Linked DNA regions of Homo sapiens: region 1 is linked to region 2. The links come from fine-mapping of genetic effects on gene expression. Tissue or cell type: Th17 cells. Region 2 holds a variant in brackets; the other region holds the start of a gene. All regions are shown on one strand. Distances are from middle to middle.

Region 1 (8,102 bases), 75 kb before region 2:
AAAACAACTAAGTGGGTCATAGGCTACACAGGACAGGCTGGTGGACAGCTGGGGAGGCCTGTGCGACACCGACACTCAGGCCAAGGCGTAAAGAACCAGGGGGGCCAGCGGCCAGGAACTGGACACAAAGGCCCCAAACAGGCATGGGCTGACGCAGGGAGTCCCCGGTGGCTGGAGGGGGTGGGAGATTGGCTGGGCGGGACTGTGCCTGTCCCGTGGGCTCCAGGGAGGGCAGGATCTGCTTCATGATTCTCAGGCCCCTGTGGCTGCCATGGGGAGCCTGGATGGCGGAGCCGGGGCCAGGGAGGCAGCCCTGGGCTCAGGGGTGAGAGGCAGGCAGGGATCCAGGGACTGGTGCTGACCCATGGAATCCCCCAGGATTTGGTGGTGGCTGTACACAAGGTCTCCCGGGAGGCAGGGGATGTTACTGCCTGCTGTGTGGGCAGGGTGGCCCCAAGTGAGCCAGATCCTGACTCCCCCACCCGCCTTGCTGCTGCAGCCCCTCAAGACCCTCTCCCGAGAACGGCCCCTGCCCAACATCTTCAACCTGTACACCATCCTCACCGTCATGCTCCAGTTCTTTGTGCACTTCCTGAGCCTTGTCTACCTGTACCGTGAGGCCCAGGCCCGGAGCCCCGAGAAGTAAGTGCTGCCTTGGAGGAGGTGATGTCCCTGCAGCTGAGAATAGCAGGAGGATGACTCCACAGACTTCAGCAGGAGAGGCTGGGGGTTGTCCAGGGTGTCCAGGGAGGGGCACTAGGCCAGGCAGAGCCCTAGCTCTGTGCCAGGGCAGCAGGAAGCCACACAGTGTGTGTGAGCCGGAGCAGGAGAGGGGGCCCTGACTCCCATGTGTCCTTGCAGGCAGGAGCAGTTCGTGGACTTGTACAAGGAGTTTGAGCCAAGCCTGGTCAACAGCACCGTCTACATCATGGCCATGGCCATGCAGATGGCCACCTTCGCCATCAATTACAAAGTAAGGCCTGGGCCCTGCCCAAACATTCACTGTCTGCCCACCCAGCCCCACCCCATGAAGCCATCTGTCCCTCATCCCCACAGGGCCCGCCCTTCATGGAGAGCCTGCCCGAGAACAAGCCCCTGGTGTGGAGTCTGGCAGTTTCACTCCTGGCCATCATTGGCCTGCTCCTCGGCTCCTCGCCCGACTTCAACAGCCAGTTTGGCCTCGTGGACATCCCTGTGGAGGTCAGTGGCCCTGTGGAGGTGACCCTGGGGCTCAGCTTGATGGGTCCCTCCTATGGCAGTGACCCTGAGCTGGGCTGCAGGTCTCCAGCTCACCATCCCTCCCTGCCCCGACAGTTCAAGCTGGTCATTGCCCAGGTCCTGCTCCTGGACTTCTGCCTGGCGCTCCTGGCCGACCGCGTCCTGCAGTTCTTCCTGGGGACCCCGAAGCTGAAAGTGCCTTCCTGAGATGGCAGTGCTGGTACCCACTGCCCACCCTGGCTGCCGCTGGGCGGGAACCCCAACAGGGCCCCGGGAGGGAACCCTGCCCCCAACCCCCCACAGCAAGGCTGTACAGTCTCGCCCTTGGAAGACTGAGCTGGGACCCCCACAGCCATCCGCTGGCTTGGCCAGCAGAACCAGCCCCAAGCCAGCACCTTTGGTAAATAAAGCAGCATCTGAGATTTTAAAAAGCCCTGCCTCCACCTCGTCTGTGCCACACGGTGTTTGCTGGGGGCTCGGGGACAGAGGGTCACTGAGGAAGGTCCCAGCACCCTCCCCACAGGCGTGTGATGTTGGTGAAACCCTCTGGCACTTTCAGCACTTGAACATGGACTTGTCCCTGCCCAGAGAATTCAGTGCATATTTTCTAGTTTAACAAGCACCCCCATATTTCTGAGGTCTCTTTCACATTTTAACAACTCAGGTGCTGAGAGAAGCCTTAGGATGTGTGATATTTTTTTCTTTCCCATAATACATAACAGCATGCCTTTCTCTCGGGTGGTGTCTGAGACTTGAGGAATATGATCTGCATCATTACAAGTATTGACTCTGTCCGGTGGCTCAAGCCTGTAATCCCAGCACTTTGGGAGGCCAAGGCGGGCCCATCACAAGGTCAGGAGATCGAGACCATCCTGGCTAACACAGTGAAACCCCATCTCTACTAAAAATACAAAAAATTAGCCAGGCATGGTGGCGAGTGCCTGTAGTCCCAGTTACTCGGGAGGCTGAGGCAGGAGAATGGCGTGAACCCAGGAGGTGGAGCTTGCAGTGAGCCGAGATAACGCCACTGCACTCCAGCCTGGGCAACAGAGCGAGACTCCAACTCAAAAGAAAAACAAACAAGTACTGACTCTGTCATGCTCTTTGGGGGCCTGCGCTGCTCTACCATCTCATGTCACAGTCAGGGAGCTCTGGCTGAGCATCAGCCAGGATGTGACCTGGAAACCTGGCTTGGCTCTTAGGTTGATAGTGTTATTCCTTTCAATGGACTCACTCATCACAACTCAAGAACTGCAGAGTAGGCAGCACGGAGCCAGTCAGAGAATCCTTGCCTCCTTAACAGCCAAAGCCTTTGGACACAAAGTTATAAACATACTTTAAAGTCTATTTCCAGCCCCAAAATTCCACTGTGCTGGGGGTGGGAGCATTTTTATAACAGGCGGCTTGTGGCAACCCCAGAGCTGGTGCTTTTGGACAAACCTCCACTCCCTACCTAAAAGGGCTGCTCCCTGGTGTGCTGTAATTGGGGCCTTGAGCCTGATCCAGCTTTGAGGGTCACGGAAGGGGCGTCCCCCAGGCCAGGGGTTCTCCAGCCCGAGTATTAGAATTTTGGTTGGAATCGGACAGAATATCAGGCCTCCACCAGGGGGCGCCATGGCTCCAGCGAGGCCCAGGTGGTTTCAGGGCTCCGAGAGACAACCTGGGCAAGGGGATCACCAGGGTCGCGGGTTGTGGGAGCTCCTGGGAGAGGCCCCCCGGGACAGGTGGACTCTGCAACCATTCAGGGAGGAGGGGGCTGGGGCTCCGTGGGATTTGGGGTAGCACAAAGATCTGAGAGGGAACCTATGGCCCAGATGAAGTCTTAGGATGCCCAGGTCAGGGGCACTGCAGCCTCGAGTGGTCGCTCAGGGGGCCCTGGCCCGACCCAGTTTCAAGCGGCTCAGGTAGAGAAGGGCACTATCAAGGCTTCCGGGCTACGGGGGCGTGGTCTGATGCGGGGGCGTGGCCTCCGCTGGGCAGGGCGACGCGGAACCGAGGCGGCGGCGGCGGCTGCGGCGGCAGGAAATCGGGGCTCGGCCCCGCCGGCGCGCGACCCCATCCCCATCCCGGTCCCTGCAGAGCGATCCCCGGGCCCAGATATGGACGCAGCAGAGCCGGGTAGGGGGTCGGGGATCCGGGAGGGGCCTCCCCCGACCATCCCCTGCTTCCTACATTGAGGGCACACACTTGTCCCGCTCCGTCCTGAGAGCCAGGAGAGGAGTTCCTGAATGGGAAGGACCCAGGGATCCTCCATTGTGGGGAGCCCTGTGCCCGGATGGGTTCAGGACCCCAGCCCTTCACTCCCCCTCCCCCTTTTGATCCCTCACCCCAGACGCCTGGGGGAGGGGGCCCAGGAAGGGGAAGTGACTGCTTCTGCTTCTGATTTTTGTGATGGGGGCAGGGTGCCACGACTGCTGAGGGAGAGGGCAACGCGGTAGGATCCCCACAGGGCCCCTCTGTAGCCCTGGGGAGTCGGCAGTGCTGGTCTAGGCCCCTTAGGAGAGGGGGCAGGGGGGCAGCAGTAGAAATGTGGCGGGGTCCGACTTGGTGTTTCCGGCCGTCTTTGTGTCTGTGTTGTGTATGTGGAGTGTCATTCGGTCTTTATGTCCCTCACGGCTTCAGTCTCTCCATGTGTGTTTCTGCCCCAGGCTCTGCCTGGCTGTCCCTTGTGTATTTCCATCTGTCTAGCCCGTGGTTCCATTGTCAGACCGGCTTTCTTCTCGGGACAGCCTGGTTGCATCTGGGGCATCTGTTTTGTTGGTTTGCTTCTGGGTGCAGGCAGACCCAGGGAGTGGGTGTCTCTGTTCCCCGAGCAGCTGTCTCTGGTCTCTGGTGGTGTGTGAGTCCATCTGCCTGCCTCGAGTTGGCCCCAACCAAGCCCCCCCCAGCCCTCTCTTTCTCTCTCTCACTCTTCCCTTTCTCTTCCACCCCCTCCAAATGAGACTGGTTGAGGTGCCGTGGGTGGAGGGAGGCAGTGGTTAGCCCATGTATTACACTCCCCTCCCCTAGGACTCCCCCCAGGTCCTGAGGGCAGGAAGAGGTACAGTGACATCTTCCGGAGCCTGGACAACCTCGAAATCTCACTGGGGAACGTGTGAGTCTGAGCCTGGATCACCCCCAAATCCTGCCAAGATGCCCCAAGCCCCTAACCATTTAGGTGCCTTGCAGTCCCATTTGGAACCTGTAACATCTGGACCTACATACCTAATAACCAGAGAAGTCTAGGATGGGACCCTCCAAAATGCCTCGGTATCCTAAAAGTGTCCCCCTAAATAGACTGGAAATCCCCAAAGTGGTCCTAGAACCCCTACATATCCTTGTAACCCCTTAAAATATTTGCGATCCCTATAATCCCACTCTATGAACCTCAAAGTTATCTGGGGCCCTTCAGATGCTTTTTCAAGTCCTATTTAAAAAAAACTCACCTGATTCCCCCAAAACACCATTCTTCAGACCTCCCAGACACAAGAGATGCCACAGAGGTGATGTTTGCCACAAACAACCCTAAGGTCCCCAGCACCCCTTGGCAGGACAGACTGGGTGTAAGGTGGCATCCTGACACACCTTTATCCCCCAGGACCCTTGAGATGCTGGCTGGAGACCCTCTACTCTCAGAAGACCCAGAACCTGACAAGACCCCTACAGCCACTGTTGTGAGTGGGGAGTAGGGGAACAGGGAGGAAGACCTCAAGCAGAGGGGGCCTTAGGAAGGCCAGGCCCCTGCCCTGTTTGCTTCTGAATACTGTCTCCCTCCCGCACAGACCAACGAAGCCAGCTGTTGGAGCGGCCCCTCCCCAGAGGGTCCTGTACCCCTCACAGGTAGGGGGGTCTGGAGGCCAGGACAGTGGGGACAGACAGGAGTCTTTCCTTCAACAAATCACCACTGATCCCCTGTTCCATGCAAGGCATCGTTTAGGTTTTGGGAATATGGCAGTACACACAACAGATCTCAGTCCCAGCCCTCAGGGAGACCCCAGGCAGGGTGGAGGCTGAGGTAGGAGGATCACTTGAAGCCAGGAATTCGTGACCATGCTGGGCAACAGTAAGACACCATCCCTACCAAAAGAAAAAATATTTTTTTAATTAGCTGGGTGTGGTGGTGTGTGCCTGTAGTCCCAGCTACTTTGGAAGCTGAGGCTGGAGGACTGATTAAGCCCAGGACTTTGAGGCTGCAGTGAGATACGATTGTGCCACTGCACTCCAGCCTGGATGACAGAGCAAGACCATGTCCAAAAAAATCAAACACAAGGCCGGACGCAGTGGCTCACGCCTGTAATCCCAGCACTTTGGAGGCTGAGGCGGGTGGACCACGAGGTCAGGAGATCGAGACCATCCTGGCTAACATGGTGAAACCCCATCTCTACTAAAAATACAAAAAAATTTAGCCGGGCGCAGTGGCGAGTGCCTGTAGTCCCAGATACTCGGGAGGCTGAGGCAGGAGAATGGCGGGAACCCAGGAGGCGGAGCTTGCAGTGAGGCAAAATAGGGCCATTGCACTCCAGCCTGAGCGACAGAGCGAGACTCCGCCTCAAAAATAAAAATAAAAAAACCCATCAAACACAGGCCGGGCACGGTGGCTCATGCCTGTAATCCCAGCACTTTGGGAGGCCGAGGCGGGCAGATCACCTGAGATTGGGAGTTCGAGACCAGCCTGACCAACATAGAGAAACCTCGTCTCTACTAAAAATACAAAAAATTAGCCGGGCATGGTGGCGCATGCCTGTAATCCCAGCTACTCAGGAGGCTGAGGCAGGAGAATCGCTTGAACCCGGGAGGCAGAGGTTTTGGTGAGCCAAAATCGCGCCATTGCACTCTAGCCTGGGCAACAAGAGCGAAACACAGTCTCAAAAATAAATAAATAAATAATAAAATAATAAAAAATAAAAAACAAAAAACAGTGAATCTGTAAAATTGCAACCAGGACAAGTGATCCCAAAGTAGTGTTTGGGGAGCTGTGAGGCTGTAGGACAGGTGCCACTGGGCTGGTCTGGGGGCTTAGGGAAGACATCCATAGCAGACTAGGGTGCAAAGGTCAGAGGTCCATCCATCTTCCCCAGGGGAGGAACTGGACTTGCGGCTCATTCGGACAAAGGGGGGTGTGGACGCAGCCCTGGAATATGCCAAGACCTGGAGCCGCTATGCCAAGGAACTGCTTGCCTGGACTGAAAAGAGAGCCAGCTATGGTGAGGACCTCTTCCGCCCAGCCCCAGTTACCAGGCAGTCCCCAGACCCCAGCTAGACCCAGAGCCCGGCTCTCTCTTCCCCCAGAGCTGGAGTTTGCTAAGAGCACCATGAAGATCGCTGAAGCTGGCAAGGTGTCCATTCAACAGCAGGTAGTCATGACCAGACCCCCCCGGAGAGCCCAAGCCCCCTAGAACCCCACCTTTGTCCCCCACAGATCTTCAGTATCCTCCTACACCACTCTGTCTTCCCCAGAGCCACATGCCTCTGCAGTACATCTACACCCTGTTTCTGGAGCACGATCTCAGCCTGGGAACCCTGGCCATGGAGACAGTGGCCCAGCAGAAAAGAGACTACTACCAGGTGAGGGGGGCAGGGTGGAATGTTACAGAGGTCACCCTGCTATCCTGCTGTCCTTCAGGCCTGATCCCCTCGTTTCCCAGCAAGCTGGGAGGAAGGCACCACTACCAACGTCGCCATTTCATTGATGAGGAAGCTGAGGCCCGGGGATGCTTGGGAACTTGCCCAAGGTTACCCAGCAAAGATTCAAGCTGGGCTTCCTGTGCAATTGCAAAACTTCACTTTACTTTTTTTCTTGAGACAGAATATCTTGCTCTTTTGCCCAGGCTGGGGTGCAATGGTGCGATCTCAGCTCACTGCAACCTCCGCTTCTTGGGTTCAAGCAATTCACTTGCCTCAGCCTCCTGAGTAGCTGGGATTACAGGCGCCTGCCACCACGCCCGGCTAATTTTTGTATTTTTAGTACAGATGGGGTTTCACCATGTTGGCCAGGCTGGTCTCCAACTCCTGACCTCAGGTAATCCACCTACCTCAGCTTCCCAAAGTGGTGGGATTACAGGCGTGAGCCACCACGCCCAGCCAAAAACTTCGTTTTTGTTTGTGGGGAGGGGAACGAGGTGCTGAGTGTTCTCAGGAGGAAAGCCTTGGTGTCTCTGCTTCCAAGCAGAAAGGATGGGGTGACTACATGAGACTTCTGGACTCAGGGGTCGGGGAGAGCAGGTCTGGAGAAGACCCCAGGAGGAGAATACTGACTCAGAAAAGGGTCCAGCCTGGCACGGTGGCTCATGCCTGTAATCCCAGCACTTCTGGGGGCCAAGGAGGGAGGATTGCTTGAGCCCAGGAGTTTGAGACCAACCTGGGCAACATAGTGAGACCCCCTGTCTCTACAAAAAAAAAAAAAAAGTTTTTTAATTAGCTGGGCCTGGTGCACATGTCTGCAGTGCTAGCTACTAGGAGGCTGAGGGTGGAGGATTGCTTGAGGCCAGGAGTTCGAGACTAACCTGGGCAACATAGTGAGATCCCTGTCTTTATCTACCAAAAAAAATTTATTTATTTATTTTTTTTTTTGAGACAGAGTCTCACTTTATCATCCAGGCTGGAGTGCAGTGGCATGATCTCAGCTCACTGCAACCTCTGCCTCCCGGGTTCAAGTGATTCTCCTGCCTCAGCCTCCCGAGTAGGTGGGACTATAGGAGTGTGCCATCACATCTTTATAATTTTTGTATTTTTGTAGAGACGGGGTTTCACCATGTTGGTCAGGCTGGTCTTGAACTCCTGGCCTCAGGTGATCTGCCCACTTTGGCCTCCCAAGTGCTGGGATTAAAGGCATGAGCCACTACACCTGGCCAACCAAAAAAAAAAAAAAAAAGAAGAAATTGTTTTTTAAATTAACTAGGCCTAGT
Region 2 (8,102 bases):
CCAGTTTTATAACAGCACCCCCACCCCAACACACACACACCCCACCCACCAGCCACAACAGGCCTACAGCTGCACAGTCCTGGGCCCAGGCCAGCCACGCTGCCAATGCCAGCCTGCCACTTGCCTTTATCAGTATGCAGCATCTTGGGTGCCCCCTCTTCCCCAGCACTTCTTGAGACTCGGTTCAGGGGTTCAGGTGACCCCAGCAACAGGCGCCTGCCTGGCCCTGCTGCGTGCACACAGCTGTGACCAAGGTTTGCCCTCACAGGCTATGCCAAACTGCGACCTGTGTCTCCCCGTTCCTCCCCAGACTGCGCTCTAAGGATGGCACTTGGACCCATGTCTTAGCGGGGTGCTCAGTGTCCATCATCCAATTTGGTGATAAAGTGGAGTATTCCTTTCTCCCGAAGGGTTCTATGCAAAAATCTTCAGACATAACACCAGTGCTCACATTTTCTCATGGTTTGTTTTCTCTCCAGAAAATGAATTGTGACTTGTCCCGGTCTCTCTTATCTAGTGGTAAGCATCCGTGGCATTCAAGACGAAGATCCCCCTGACGCCCAGCTCCTGAGGCTGGATAACATGCTGCTGGCTGAGGGCGTGTGCAGGCCCGAGAAGAGAGGAAGAGGAGGAGCGGTGGCCAGGGCCGGCACAGCAACACCAGGTGGCTGTCCAAATGACAATAGCATTGAGCACTCTGACTACAGGGCCAAGCTGTCCCAGATCCGACAGATTTACCACTCTGAGCTAGAGAAATATGAACAGGTGATCTTTCTGCATGGAAGAGTTTCTGTCATGTGAATGCGCATTTGTCAAAGCGAAACACGGAACGCTAACCACCTTTCTTTCGTGGCGCAGAACAGGGAGTCCATGCAGTTGGTCGCTGCAGAGGTGGTCCATTGTTACTGAAAGCCCTTTCCATTTACTTAACAGTCACCCGCCGGTGTGTGAACTACAGGGGGTGGCAGGCGGCTGCTCCGCTGTGGAACCTGCTGCCCTGTGCCACCCTGCTGCCTAGTCACAGGCCGGCGTGTCTGTGCTCCCACCCCAGGCCTGTCGTGAGTTCACCACGCACGTCACCAACCTCCTCCAGGAGCAGAGCAGGATGAGGCCTGTCTCCCCTAAGGAGATTGAGCGCATGGTCGGCGCCATTCACGGCAAGTTCAGCGCCATCCAGATGCAGTTGAAGCAGAGCACCTGTGAGGCAGTGATGACCCTGCGTTCGCGGCTGCTCGATGCCAGGTCAGGGCCTGTACGTACCCAAAACCTCAAGGGCCGGCTCTGAGGGACTGGAGGGAAATAGTGCTGGCTTGGGTTGAAGACAGCCCTGGAGGCTGTGTCTGCAGTCACGGTTGGAGGCCTCACAGCCTCTTGGGAAGAAGGCCTGAAGTATTGCTGTTTTCATTTTTATTTTATTTTGTATTTATTTATTTATTTATTTGAGACGGAGTCTCACTCTGGTGCCCAGGCTGGAGTGCAGTGGTGCGATCTCCACTCACCACAACCTCCGCCTCCCAGGTTCAAGCGATTCTACTGCTTCAGCCTCCCGAGTAGCTGGGATTACAGGCTCCCGCCACCATGCCCAGCTAATTTTTGTGTTTTTAGTAGAAACGGGGTTTCACTATGTTGACCACGCTGGTCTCGAACTCCTGACCTCAAGTGATTGCTGTTTTCAGAACTACTGGAAAATCATACTCAGAACTAGAGGTGGGGGTGGTACTGGAGTCCCAGCATATTAATGCCTACGAAGGCGGCTGTTTTTGCAGGCGCAAGCGGCGGAATTTCAGCAAGCAGGCGACGGAAGTGCTGAATGAGTATTTTTACTCCCATCTGAACAACCCTTACCCCAGCGAAGAAGCCAAAGAAGAGCTGGCCAGGAAGGGCGGCCTCACCATCTCCCAGGTGACGTTCTCTCCTGCCACGTCTCGCCACGCCTGGGAGGAGTGGATGACTAGGTCCCATGAGGACACCCAGGGAAGTTTGTTAAATGTGTGCAGAGGCCAGGCATGGCTGCTGGAATCCCAGCACTTTGGGAGGATGAGGTAGGAGGGTCGCTTGAGGCCAGGAGTTCGAGACCAGCCTGGGCAACATAGTGAGACACTGTCTCTACAAAAAATTTAAAAAATTAGCTGGGCTTGGTGGTGTGCACCTGTGGTCTCAGCTCCTTCGGATGCTGAGGTGGAAGGATCACTTGAGCCCAGGAGGGTGAGGCTGCAGTGAGCTATGATGGCGCCACTGCATTCCAGCCTGGGTGACAGAGTGAGATCCTATCTCTGAAAAACAAAAAAAGTGTGGAACAGGAGCCAAGTCTCCAGGCTCTGAGTCAGCCAGGCCAGCTCAGATCCAGGCTCTGCATTACAAATGTGGGACTCCAGCGCTCTCCCCGTTCATCTGTGAGGCAGGGGTGCAAGTGTACCCACAGAGAGACCTGAGGACTTCCTGAGCGATGCAGATGGAATGCGAGGTCCCAGAGGTGATGCTGTGGAGTGTGAGCTCCCTGAGGGACACAGACGGAGTGTGAGCTCCCTGAGGGTTACAGACAGAGTGTGAACTCCCTGAGGGATACAGACAGAGTATGAGCTCCCTGAGGGATACAGATGGAGTGTGAGCTCCCTGAGGGATACAGACAGAGTGTGAGCTCCCTGAGGGTTACAGACAGAGTATGAGCTCCCTGAGGGATACAGACGGAGTGTGAGCTTCCTGAGGGATACAGATGGAGTGTGAGCTCCTTGAGGGATACAGATGGAGTGTGAGTTCCCTGAGGGATACAGATGGAGTGTGAGCTCCTTGAGGGATACAGATGGAGTGTGAGTTCCCTGAGGGATACAGATGGAGTGTGAGCTCCTTGAGGGATACAGATGGAGTGTGAGTTCCCTGAGGTGACTGAGGTGGAGTGTGAGCTCCCTGAGGGATACAGATGGAGTGTGAGCTCCCTGAGGGATACAGATGGAGTGTGAGCTCCCTGAGGGATACTGATAGAGTGTGAGCTCCCTGAGGGATACAGATGGAGTGTGAGCTCCCTGAGGGATACTGATAGAGTGTGAGCTCCCTGAGGGATACAGATGGAGTGTGAGCTCCCTGAGGGTTACAGATGGAGTGTGAGCTCCCTGAGGGATACAGATGGAGTGTGAGCTCCCTGAGGGATACTGGTAGAGTGTGAGCTCCCTGAGGGATACAGATGGAGTGTGAGCTCCCTGAGGGTTACAGATGGAGTGTGAGCTCCCTGAGGGATACAGATGGAGTGTGAGCTCCCTGAGGGTTACAGATAGAGTGTGAGCTCCCTGAGGGATACTGATGGAATGTGAGCTCCCTGAGGGATAAAGATGGAGTGTGAGTTCCCTGAGGTGATTGAGGTGGAGTGTGAGCTCCCTGAGGGACAGAGATGGAGTGTGAGCTCCCTGAGAGATACAGATGGAGTGTGAGCTGCCTGAGGGATACAGGTGGGGTGTGAGCTCCCTGAGGGATACAGATGGAGTGTGAGCTCCCTGAGGTGATTGAGATGGAGTGTGAGTTCCCTGGGGGATGCTGTGGAGTGTGAGCCCCCTGAGGTGACGTGGTAGAGAGTGTGAGCTCCCTGACTCTATAGCCTGGTAGGCAGCCACCAGTGTCCTCTGTGGAACTGGGGGTGAAAGAGGGAGACACTAAGACCAAGAGGCTAAGAAATATTTCCGAAGGTTTTAACATGGAAACAGTAAGTCCAGGCAGCCTATGGCAGCAAGCCAGGTCCAGGCCATACCCCCGTGGCAGCATGAGTGTGTGGAACAGGGCCTGGGTGCCGCCCTCCCACCTGGGCAGGCACAGCCCCACAGCCTCTATGGCAGCAGGAATGGCAGGTGCTGACCCACAGCATGGCTTGCTGCATGTCACCACAGCCCTCCCTACTTTGCAGTTGGAGGGGCTGAGTTTCTAGTCCTTCACCACCATGCTCTGCTCCAACCCAGGCTAAGTCCAGTCAAGTCTCTGTGACAGAGAGCAATTGGAACCCCTCGGGGTCACGCAGGCAGCAAAACATCCTGAGGTCATAGTCACATATGACTTTGCTCATCGGGATCTGCTGTGGTGTCAGAAACAAGGCCAGAGCTGGAGCAAGGGGCTGCGCCTCTGGGTCTTCAAGGCCCCTGGAGAAGCGTGAGACATTTGGCCCCCAAGGAACAATTGTCTGGAGGACAACCAGGGCTGCTTCAACCAGGATGGAGCCTCTGGGGCCTCCCATGTGGATCAAGAGAAGGCTGCTCACACCCCCGGGGTAGGCAGACACTATGTTTGGAACAGAGAGCACACAGACAGGGATCCTTCTTTTTATACTTAACATTGCAAGGATAATGTAAGTACACCAAATGTTGGCCAGGCATGGTGGCTCATGCCTGAAATCCCAGCACTTTGGAGGCCAAGGCGGACGAATCACCTGAGGTCAGGAGTTCGAGACCAGCCTGGCCAACATGGTGAAACCCCGTGGCTACTGGAAATACAAAAATTAGCCAGGCTTGGTGGCACATGCCTGCAATCCCGCTACTGGGGAGGCTGAGGCAGGAGAATCATTTGAACCAGGGAGGCGGAGGTTGCAGTGAGTTGAGGTCGCACCACTGCACTCCACACTCCAGCCTGGGTGACAGAGTGAGACTCCGTCTCCGAAAAAAAAAAAAAAAAAA[AG/G]TACAAAAATTAGCCAGGCTTGGTAGCACGTGCCTGTAGTCCCAGCTACTGGTGAGGCTGAGGCAAGAGAATCACTTGAATCTGGGAGGCAGAGGTTGCAGTGAGCTGAGATCGCACCGCTGCACTCCAGCCTGGGTGACAGAGTGAGAAAAAAATGTTTGAAGTAGCAAAGGTCATCCACAATCCTCTTCCATCCCTCAGCTGTTTCATTTCTGTGTGTTATTATACTATACGTTTATTTTACTTGCTTTGGGATACTGAAATGTGGCCCTGGATGGACGTCTCCATGCCTGTAGGAAGGCGCTGGCCCTGGGGTGCTCACCCATGTGAATCTGCCCAGGGGACATTTTTGTTGTCACGACTAGAGAAGGGAAGTGCTCCTGGCACCCAGTGGGTGCCAAGGATACCGCTCAGCACCCTGCAGTGTACAGGACAGCCCCCACAGAGCAGATGGAGCCCAAGCATCAGCAGTGCCACCAAAGGTGACAAGCCCCTCCCTGGGGGACTCCAGTGCCAGTTTGCAGTCAGAGCTGGGCTGATTCCACCTTGGCCATGGACTAGCTCCTTTTTCTCCTGCCTCTGCTTTCTTACAGCAGGGACGATAACAGCTGCCTCCCAGGTCCTCATGAGGATGAGGCAGAATGATATATGAGGCTGGGCCTGGAATCCCAGCATTTTGGGAGGCCAGGGCGGGAGGAACTCTCAAGCCCAGGGGTTTGAGACCAGCCTGGGCAACAGAGCGAGACCCTATCTCTAAAAAAAAAGAAAAAATATATTTTTTTTTCTGAGACAGGGTCTCACTCTGTTGCCCAGGCTAAATTGCAGTGCGATCTTGGCTCACTGCAACCTCTGCCTCCCAGGTTCAAGTGATTCTCCTGCCTCAGCCTCCCGAGTAGCTGGGATTACAGGCATGTGCCACTGTGTCCAGCTAATATTTGTATTATTAGTAGAGATGGGGTTTCTCCATGTTGTCCAGGCTGGTCTCGAACTCCTGACCTCAGATGATCCCCCCACCTCAGCCTCCCAAAGTGCTGAGATTACAGGCGTGAGCCACCACGCCCGGCCAAAAAACCTTTTTTTAATTAAAATTAAGAAAAATATATGAATATATGAGAAGTGCTTATCCTAGCACCTGGTACATTCCAACTACCCCTTCAGAGTTCACCTTGTTTTCATTTGATAAGTTTGGGATTCGATCGCAGTTACTGGGTCCCCAGGTCTCCCTGGCTCTCACTTTTCCTGAAGAGAACACGGAACGTAACCTGCCGCCTGCTGCATGGCAGCCAGAGGCGCTGTCCCTCCCGGCCCACCTCAGACAGTCTTGTTTTCCTTCCAGCCCCTTCCCAGGTTCAGGTTCCAGCAACATCCAGTTTTAGGCAGCAGAGTTCTAAGACACGCCAGCTCCAGGGTGTCCTCAACCCATGTGGACATCTCCCTGGGTCCGTGGTTCAGAGGGCGCCACCTTCTCAGTCCCAGACTCTTCATAGCCCCAGGGTGCAGTGTTGTCTTCTAAGGCAGTGGGAGCAACGGGCACCCCAGGGAACCCACAGACTGCGTCGTGTCTCAGAAGTCGCTGGGTCAGCTCCTCCAGTGACTCCTGTGTGTCCGCAGGTCTCTAACTGGTTTGGCAACAAAAGAATCCGGTATAAAAAGAACATGGGGAAGTTTCAAGAAGAGGCTACCATTTACACGGGTAAAACGGCTGTGGATACCACGGAAGTTGGGGTCCCAGGGAACCACGCCAGCTGCCTGTCAACACCTAGCTCCGGTGAGTGAGGCTGGCCCAGGGACAGTCATCTGTACCCATGTGGACGGCCACTGAGCTGCATCTGGGGAGGCCACAGTGGGACCACATCTCCCTTCCCCCAGTGGTCAACTCTGTGTAACTCTTTCTTCTGTTTCAACTGTGAGAGTTCTGTTCCTCTTGGCCATGATCCCAACCAACAGATACCTGTGCTTTGGGGACAGAATGGCGATACTAATAAGAAAAGACATGAAAGGTCTGGGTGCGGTGGCTCACACCTGTAATCCCAGCATTTTGGGAGGCCAAGATGAGTGGATCACCTGAGGTCAGGAGTTTGAGACCAGCCTGGCCAACATGGTGAAACCCTGTCTCTACTGAAAATACAAAAAAAATTAGCCCGGCATGGGCTGGGTGCAGTGCCTCACACCTGTAATCCCAGGCCGAGGCGGGCGGATCACGAGGTCAGGAGATAGAGACCATCCTGGCTAACACAGTGAAACCCCATCTCCACTAAAAATACAATTCACAATAGCAAAGACTTGGAACCAACCCAAATGTCCAACAATGATAGACTGGATTAAGAAAATGTGGCACATATACACCATGGAATACTATGCAGCCATAAAAAATGATGAGTTCATGTCCTTTGTAGGGACATGGATGAAACTGGAAATCATCATTCTCAGTAAACTATCGCAAGAACAAAAAACCAAACACCGCATATTCTCACTCATAGGTGGGAATTGAACAATGAGAACACATGGACACAGGAAGGGGAATATCACACTCTGGGGACTGTTGTGGGGTGGGGGGAGGGGGGAGGGATAGCATTGGGAGATATACCTAATGCTAGATGACGAGTTAGTGGGTGCAGCACACCAGCATGGCACATGTATACATACGTAACAAACCTGCACATTGTGCACATGTACCCTAAAACTTAAAGTATAATAATAATAAAAAAAAAGAAAGAAAAAACAAATTATCTGGGCGTGGTGGTGGGCGCCTGTAGTCCCAGCTACTTGGGAGGCTGAGGCAGGAGAATGGTGTGAACCTGGGAGGCAGAGCTTGCAGTGAGCCAAGATCGTGCCACTGCACTCAAGCCTGGGTGACAGAGCGAGACTGTCTTAAAAAGAAAAAAAAAAGACAAGCCATGAGGGGACATGAGTAGTGTGGTGGGGAGGGCCCGCTGGCCTGCCTGGGTGGGGGCTGAGGAGCAGAGGCCGGATGCTGAGGAGGGGCAGGAGCCACATTCGAGGCCTCCTGCCGGCTGAGGGGCTGGGTGGGTTCCACCTGAGGAGGCGCCACGACTCTGCCCACCCCGGCTCCCATCTCTTCCAGGCTCCTCTGGACCCTTCCCGCTGCCCAGCGCTGGGGACGCCTTCCTCACCCTGCGGACTCTGGCCTCTCTCCAGCCTCCTCCTGGGGGAGGCTGCCTGCAGTCCCAGGTGAGTCTCAGGCACTGTCCCACAGCGCCCAGGTGGGTGGTAGGTTCTCAGAAAGGGTCGTCTTGTCAGCCACCCCTCGGCCTTGGGGCAGCTTCCCCAGAGGTCCCAGCAGCCACACAGGCCATGCTGCGCGGCCACCTCTGGGGCACAGCTCTGCAGGGCCCCACTCTGTAATGACTGTGCCCTCCCCCACCTCCACTTGTCACCACGGCAGCCGCTGGGAACAGTCAGTGGGGATGAACCCCAAGATGAGGGCTTTG

What was found. PIP is the estimated chance that this variant, and not a neighbour inherited with it, causes the effect.
Region 1: GMIP starts here. The variant in region 2 is fine-mapped to the expression of GMIP in Th17 cells (Schmiedel 2018, PIP 0.92).

What each region holds. Positions count from the first base shown.
Region 1 is chr19:19,638,745-19,646,846 of GRCh38, reverse strand. It overlaps GMIP (GEM interacting protein), which reads left to right and starts at 3,190. Exons shown (of 21, transcript NM_016573.4): 1 at 3,190-3,336; 2 at 4,228-4,312; 3 at 4,796-4,871; 4 at 4,980-5,037; 5 at 6,276-6,401; 6 at 6,487-6,551; 7 at 6,655-6,762. The coding sequence starts at 3,318. ATP13A1 (ATPase 13A1) reads left to right here. Exons shown (of 26, transcript NM_020410.3): 23 at 500-642; 24 at 862-973; 25 at 1,057-1,200; 26 at 1,315-1,649. The coding sequence ends at 1,425. RefSeq lists a silencer at 3,097-3,346 and enhancers at 3,977-4,136, 3,358-4,313.
Region 2 is chr19:19,563,249-19,571,350 of GRCh38, reverse strand. PBX4 (PBX homeobox 4) reads left to right here. Exons shown (of 8, transcript NM_025245.3): 3 at 518-765; 4 at 1,052-1,242; 5 at 1,767-1,902; 6 at 6,262-6,418; 7 at 7,736-7,842. Among named protein-coding and RNA genes, the nearest start is that of CILP2, 29 kb to the right of the region's middle. The variant AG/G (reference allele first, on the strand shown) is at 4,650.